Linked DNA regions of Homo sapiens. The protein of the gene in region 1 purifies or fractionates together with the protein of each later gene. This does not show direct contact. Each region holds a gene or a part of one and is shown on either strand. Other genes may lie near its edges.

The links. The genes of interacting proteins can lie anywhere in the genome.
Region 2: the proteins of C5orf24 (region 1) and STRADA purify together in Homo sapiens (affinity purification with mass spectrometry; 2 studies listed by BioGRID and IntAct, with this or other methods). This does not show direct contact.

What each region holds. Positions count from the first base shown.
Region 1 is NC_000005.10:134,848,773-134,852,759, forward strand, and holds part of C5orf24 (UPF0461 protein C5orf24), read left to right. Parts: intron 1-3,987.
Region 2 is NC_000017.11:63,714,247-63,718,233, forward strand, and holds part of STRADA (STE20-related kinase adapter protein alpha), read right to left. Parts: intron 1-3,987. UniProt on the Homo sapiens protein: Pseudokinase which, in complex with CAB39/MO25 (CAB39/MO25alpha or CAB39L/MO25beta), binds to and activates STK11/LKB1.

The sequences.
Region 1 (3,987 bases):
TAACATGGTGAAACGTCGTCTCTACCGAAAATAAAAAAATTGGGCGTGGTGGCATGTGCCTGTAATCCCAGCTACTCAGGAGGCTGAGGCAGGAGAATCGCTTGAACCCGGGAGGCAGAGGTTGCGGTGAGTCAAGATTGCACCATTGCACTCCAGCCTGGGCAACAAGAGTGAAACTCCGTCTCAAAAAAAAAAAAAAAAGAGGCTGGGCGCGGTGGCTCACGCCTGTAATCCCAGTACTTTGGGAGGCTGAGCGGGTGGATCACGAGGTCAGGAGTTCAACACCAGCCTGGCCAACATAATGAAACCCCATCTCTACTAAATATACAAAAATTAGCTGGGCGTGGTGGCACATGCCTGTAATCCCAGCTACTTCGGAGGCTGAGGCAGGAGAATCGCTTAAACCGGGGTTCCAGAGGTTGCAGTGAGCCAAGATCAAGTCACTGCACTCCAGCCTGGGCAACAGAGCTAGACTTCGTCTCAAAAAAAAAAAGGGAGTGTTTCAACAATAGTTAGCTCGGAAGTGGGAGGAGGAAGGCATTATGGAGTGCAGGGTTAAGCTCACATGCAAATACTTTTTATATAAACATAAATATGCTGCATGTAAATATATAGTGATGGTTATGCACATAAGCATCTAATAGTGCTGATTCCCAACTTAATAAAGTTGAAGTCTGAAAATAGGAAAGGATTGGTTTTAGTTCTGTTTGCGTTTTTAAAGTTAATTATTTACGAGTAATTCTCATATTAAATTCCTTGTCCAGCTTGTTTATTAATTATTAAGTAGAATACTGTACTGATTTCTTGGCAGTAGCAGGGAAGGAATATATAGAACATACAGAAGCCCTGCACTTCAGAAATGTTAAGTCAGTGTCTTTTTTTTTTTTTTTTTTTTTTTTTTTAAAGAGAGAGTCTCACTCTGTTGCCCAGCCTGGAGTGCAGAGGTGTGATCTCAGCTCACTGCAACCTCTGCCTCCCGGGTTCAAGCAATTCTGCTGCCTCAGCCTTCCGAGTAGCTGGGATTACAAGTGCATGCCTCCATGCCCAGCTAATTTTTGTATTTTTTGTAGTGACGGGGTTTCTCCCTGTTGGCCAGGCTGGTCTCGAACTCCTGACCTCAAGTGATCCACCCGCCTCAGCCTCCCAAAGTGCTGGGAGTACAGGCGTGAGCTACCACACCTGGCTAAGTCAGTGTCTCATTATCTTTCCATTGGAATAAATAGCTTTACTCTTGTCAATTTGTGCTTAGAATAGTGTTTTGCATGGAGTTGGCCCTCAATAAATGTGAGTTATGTCAGAACTAAATTTACATAATACAAACTAAAGGCATAAATTCTGGACAATATTGAAGGAATGAAGAAATGGAGATATGTGGTTTTTTGTTTGTTTTCTTTGAGATGGAGTTTGCTCTTGTTGCCCAGGCTGGAGTGCAGTGGCATGATCTCGGCTCACTGCAACCTCCTCCTCCCAGGTTCAAGCGATTCTCCTGCCTCAGCGTCCTGAGTAGCTGGGATTACAGGCATGTACCACCACGCCCAACTAAATTTTATTTTTAGTAGAGATGGGGTTTCTCCATGTTGGTCAGGCTGGTCTCAAACTCCCGACCTCAGGTGATCCACCCGCCTTGGCCTCCCAAAGTGCTGGGATTACAGGCGTGAACCACCATGGCTGGCCAAGATGCATGCTTTTTAAAAATTGCAAGTGTTTTTTTTTTTTTGAGTTGGAGTTTCGCTCTTGTCTCCCAGGCTGGAGTGCAATGTTGCGATCTTGGCTCATTGCAACCTCCACCTTCTGGGTTCAAGCGACACTCCTGCCTCAGCCTCCCGAGTAGCTGGGATTACAGGCGTGCACCACTACACCAGGCTAATTTTTTTTTGTATTTTTAGTAGAGACGGGGTTTTACCATTTTGGCCAGGCTAGTCTCAAACTCCTGACCTCAGGTGATCTGCCTGCCTCAGCCTCCTGAAGTGCTGGGATTAGAGGCATGAGTCACCATGCCCAGCCGCACGACTAATTTTTTAATGGTATGTTTTTTTCAGTGTGGATTGATATCTGAGTCAAGGATAGTGGCATTTTGCCTCTAAAAGCCTAACATAATGTAAGCTGAGACTGTATATCCTGAGTTCTCTGATAGATTATGAATGTTCATATATATATATATATATACACACACACACACACACTACACACACATACATATTTTATACATACAGAAATACATATATTTATTTATTTATTTATTTATTTATTTATTTATTTATTTTTGTTACCCTCCTGGTAAGTCACAGAACTTTTTTTTTTCCCCCACAAAATTTTTGTAAATTTTTGTATTTTTAGTAGAAACAGGGTTTTGCCATTTTGGCCAAGCTGGTCTTGAACTCCTGACCTTAGGTGATTTTCCCGCCTTGGCCTCTCACAGTGCTGGGATTGTAGGCGTGAGCCATCGTGGCCATCCTGGTTGTCTTTACTAATTCTGGCATTTGCTTTTCTTCCATTTGGAAACCAAATCTATTTGACTTTGCAGTAAGAAAGAATTTGTGGATATTTGGTGAGGAAGAGGCTAAAAAGGTGAATAAAAACTTAAGTGAGAATATTTTAAGTTGGGTCTGTGTTTTCATTTTAGTATAATCAAGTGATTTCATGGTGAAGGGTGGATTCCCCGCCCCCCACCCCCCAGGGAACATTTGGCAATGTCTGGAGAAATTTTTCATTGTCAAATATTTAGGGGAAGGGAGAGAGGTGTTGCTACTGACATCTAGTGGGTAGAGGCCAGGGATGCTGCTAAACATTGTACAATGCAGTGGACAAACCACAACAAAATTATCTGACCCAAATGACAGTGCTGCTATTGAAAAACCATGGTATGCTACATTGTAAATTGTTGGTTCTGAAGTTGAATCATCAAAAGTCATATTTGGCTAACCATTTCCTAATGTGTGACCCTGGCAGAATGCTTAAAGTCTGTAAAATAATATTGTATGTTCCTTATAGGCTTGTACTGAGGATTAAATCAGATAATGTGCAAAGAACCAAGCTTATTGCCTGGCACATAACAAAATCCTAAAAAATTGCTAACTTTCAGCCAATACTATGTTTGGAACTCATCTTGAGAGTCTCCTTTTTTCTCATCTGAAATTAGAATTTGAGCTAGTGAAATGATAATTAATAATCTAGTCCTTTTTGTTTTGAGACGGAGTCTTGCTTGTCACTCAGGCTGGAGTGCAGTGGCACGATCTCAGCTCACTGCAACCTCTGCCTCCCGGGTTCAACCAATTCTCCTGCCTCAGCCTCCTGAGTAGCTGGGACTACAGGCACGTGCCATCACGCCCAGCTAATTTTTTGTATTTTTAGTAGAGACGGTGTTTCACTGTGTTAGCCAGGATGGTCTCAATCTCCTGACTTTGTGATCCGCCTGCCTCGGCCTCCCAAAGTGCTGGGATCACAGGCGTGAGCCACCGCGCCTGGCCAATAATCTAGTTCTTGTATCTGTGGGGAATGAGTGAAAAAATTATTCCACTTAATATTTGTGTTTAGCCCAGTCTTGTTTTATGTTCTCAAGTCTAAAAAGCTTTTGCCATAAACAAGTAGCTTCTCACTGTAGATATTTTTCCATCAAATTGAGACTTTAAGCCAGCTTGCCAATTGCTCTGTTGATTCTCAGCAAATGTTTCATAATTTAACAGAATTTGATTCTGTGACTTCATGCTCATTTCCTTTTGCCTTTACAAACTAAAGTAAGTTTACAGTGGTTTTCGCTAACCTTATTACCTGTTTGCAGCCTCTAGGAGTAACTGTTTTCATAACTGAGGTTTTGGTGCACTCTCACATGTATGAAGGGTGCACACAAATATCTCCTAACAACTTGAGGCTGGACCTTAATATACATTTGTGACTCTTTATAAATCCGAATTGGAACCCATATCTTTATCTCTTTTACCTCATCACAACATAATACTGTAGTCTCTATAAAACTGTCATTTCCAGCCA
Region 2 (3,987 bases), on another chromosome or scaffold:
TGAAGAGAAACAAAACACTACATTCAGGGTAGTAATCAGCACTAATATCAGAGCAAGTGTTAGGGTTGTCTACAAATGAGGAGACAAGGACCTGTTCCCATCAAATGTTAATCTGCTTGTCCTTTCCAACAATCAATGCATTTGCTAAAAGCTATGAAATTCTCACTTGGAGAAGGGATGTCTAGAGAATGAAAGCATGTTTGGAAAAGAGAAGCAGGTGGAGAGGTAGGGGTTCTCATGAATTTCCTGATGCATTAGGATCCTATTTTTAAGGTCCTCACCACAAGATCCCAAAAGGTCAAACGCTGAATCTTGCTCTAGGGAAAATGTGGCCAGGAGTAGCCCCCTCTTTAGCAAACCAAGAGCCCGGGCCAGTCATTGCCTGACATTTCCAAGTGAAGTGGGAGAACCCTGATGCCCTGAGCTGCAGGCAAGGCACAGAGCTGTCAGGTCTCAGGCATCGTCCAGGCAGCTGACATGGCCTGCTCCCTCGTTCCTGCCCACGTGTGCTGTGAGTGAAGCTGGAGTCCAGCCACTTAGGATGTGTCACAACTCTGGCCTCTAAGGTCCTAGAGGAAGGTGTCCAGCCATGTCTGAGTTTGTGCAAAACACACGGCAGACCAACAGCTCTTCTTTCAGCTTAATGGACTGTTTCCTTCTTCCACACCTAAATTTATGTGTATGATTTAGGGACTGTGACTGCTTTTCTTTTAGATTCTCTTTCTTTAGATGCACATCTAACTGAAATGGAGAAACCTGGGCCAGCTCATGTTTCATGTGCTGCACTCATAAACCTGACCTCCAGGCAGAAAAAGTCCTTTGTGAAAGTATGAGAGGCTCCTGACCCAGCACTACCCAGAAGAGCACGAGCTGAGAGTGTTCTGAAAAGGCGGTGCTTGAACAACTCTTTGGGAAGCGGCTCTGCAGAGGAAACCATAAAGATGACGGTGCTCTATACCTGTAAGATGACCAGAGTATACTTTCCAGAGCACTTCCAAATTGCACATGATTCCTCCATAGCTCAGTCAAGTAGCCGGGACAGATCTTATCTCCACTTTTCACTAACAAAAACGAGGGCCAAGGAGATTATGTGACTTGCCAAAAATCAAAACGTGAGTACATGGCACAGGACCCAGGCCCAAACCAGTGAGATTAATCTACCACCCTGTTGGCTGACGTTTCACGTGTATCTGGTTTGTTTGTTGTTTTGTTGCTGTTGTTTTTAAGATATGGGTTATCTCTTTGTCGCTCAGGCTAAAGTGCAGTGGTGAGTTCCTGGCTCACCGTGGCCTCGAACTCCTGGGCTCAATTGATCCTCCTGCCTCAGCCTCCCAAGTAGCTGAGATTATTGGCAGGAGCTGAGATTATTGGCTGTATGTGGTTTCAAAACAGTTGATGCTGCTGATGGGGAAAGAAACCCTCAAGTGGGCTCTGTCTCCCTCACCACTTACCCTGGCAATAAGAGGAACCTAGTCAAGCAAAATTAAGCCCTGTCACCAAATTCCATTTCTAATTTAATCAATTTTTAAATTTCTAAGATTTGGCCATATTGTTGTATTTCACTGTAGTTCGCCCATTTTCACTGCTGTATCATATATTCAGCACATGAATATATCTCAGTTTATCCAATTCCAACTTTGATGGCTCATTTGGGTTGTTTTTCAGTTCTGCTATTATGGACTGTGCTACTATAAACATGTTTGAATATGTATCCTGACTAAAGCTTGTAATTAGGAGTGGCTGGAATTGCTAGTGACAGAGCATATGAACAATCAACTGTTTGAGACAATGCCAAATTATTTTCCAAAATGGTTATACCAATTTACACTCCCACCAGCAACGTACGTGGTTTTTTTTTTTTTTTTTTTTAGACGGAGTCTCACTCTGTCACCAGGCTGGAGTGCAGTGGCACGATCTTGGCTCAATGCAAGCTCCGCCTCCTGGGTCCAAGCAATTCTCCTGCCTCAGCCTCCCAGGTAGCTGGGACTATAGGTGTGAGCCACCATGCCTGGCTAAGTTTTGTATTTTTTTGTAGAGATGGGGTTTTGCCATGTTGCCCAGCTGGTCTTGAACTCCTGACCTCAAGTGACCCACCCAGCTTGGCCTCCCAAAGTGCTAACATTACAGGCATGAGCCACTGTGCCCGGCCACATGTGTTCTTATTAATTTATCTTTTCCCCAACACTTGGTATTTTCAGATTTCTTAATTTTTGCCAGTCTCATGGATTTGATTTACATTTCCCTGATTACTAATGAAGATGAGGATCTTTTCATATATTTATCAGTCATGTGAGCGTTCTCCAAGGTGAAAATGCCTCTTCCTGTCTCTTGACCATTTTCCTGTTGTTTCAGTGCAGGATTTCCCCAAAGTAGGCCCCACGGAACTCTGATTCTGCCAGTTGGATGGAAAAAGTTTCCATGTCCAGTGAAGTTAGGAAATGCAGCACACTCTCTCATGGAGGATCACAAGGTGTACGTCCATATTAAAGGCACTGAGAAATTCTGTAGTAAGAAAACTTACTGTGTTTAACCCAGCATTTCCCAAAGAGATCTGTCTAGGGAACCTTTTGTGCCTAACATCTGTTAAATTTTGGGAAAGATAATTGGGAAAGGCTGTTTTAAATAAAACATATGCTACAATGCAAAGAGCATAGGCTTATGGGCCACATAGAGGCAGAATTTGAACTCAGGTCTATTACTGGTTCTGTGACCCTGGGCAAGTCACTCTGATCTCTTGGGATCTCCATTATATCAGCAGCTGAATAATTTCCATCTCATAGTGTTGTATCTATTAGATGAGATAAAATATGTTAAGAGCTTAGTGCTACCTGGTGTATAAAAGACATTCAATACATGTGAATCCTATTCTCCTCCTCCTTCTATTGCTCTCTACTTTTTGGTGACTCTCCTGTTGAACAAATAAAATGGAAAAGAGAAAATGGAGGAAACAGAATCCTAAGCAGAGCTTGATCAGTAAAGTTGATTTGATACTGGTTTTTATACTTATCTGTGTTTTCTAATGCTCTCAAAATAAATTCTAGGATCATTAAATTTTATTTTATTTTATTTATTTATTTTTGAGACGGAGTCTCACTTTGTCACCCAGGCTGGAGTGCAATGGCGTGATCTCAGCTCACTATAGCCTCTGCCTTTTGGGTTTAAACGATTCTCCTGCCTCAGCCTTATAAGTAGCTGGGACTACAGGTGCGAACCACCATGCCCGGCTAAGTTTATTTATTTATTTATTTATTTTAGACAGACTCTCACTCTGTTGCCCAGGCTGGAGTGCAGTAGTGCGATCTCAGCTTACTGCAACCTCTGCCTCCTGGGTTCAAGTGATTCTCCTGCCTCAGCCTCCCAAGTAGCTGGGATTACAGATGCCTGCCACCACCCCTAATTTCTGTATTTTTAGTAGAGACAGGGTTTCACCATGTTGGCCAGATTGGTCTCGAACTCCTGACTTCAAGTGATCTACCCGCCTCAGCCTCTCAAAGTGCTGGGATTACAGGTGTGAGCCACCATGCCCAGCTAATTTTTGTATTTTTAGTAGAGACAGGGTTTCACCATGTTGGCCAGACTGGCCTTGAACTCCTGGACCTCAAGTGATCCTCCCACCTTGGCCTCTCAAAGTGCTGGGATTATAGGCGTGAGCCACCATGCCTGGCCTAGGATCACTAAATTTTTAAAAATTATTATTATTATTATTTGAGATAGGCTCTCAATATGTCACCCAGGCTGGAGTGCAGTGGCAAGATGATGGCTCACTGCAACCTCAATCTCCCAGGCTCAAGCAGTCCTCTCAAGTGGCTAAGACTACAGGCATGTGCCACCACGCCTAGCTAATTTTTGTATTTTTTGTAGAGATGAGGTCTCCCTATGTTGCTCAGGCTGGTCTCAAACTCCTGGGCTCAAGCGATTCTCTTGCCTCGGCCTCCCAAAGTACTGGGATTACAGGCTTGAGCCACTGCACCCTGCTGACTCTAGCTT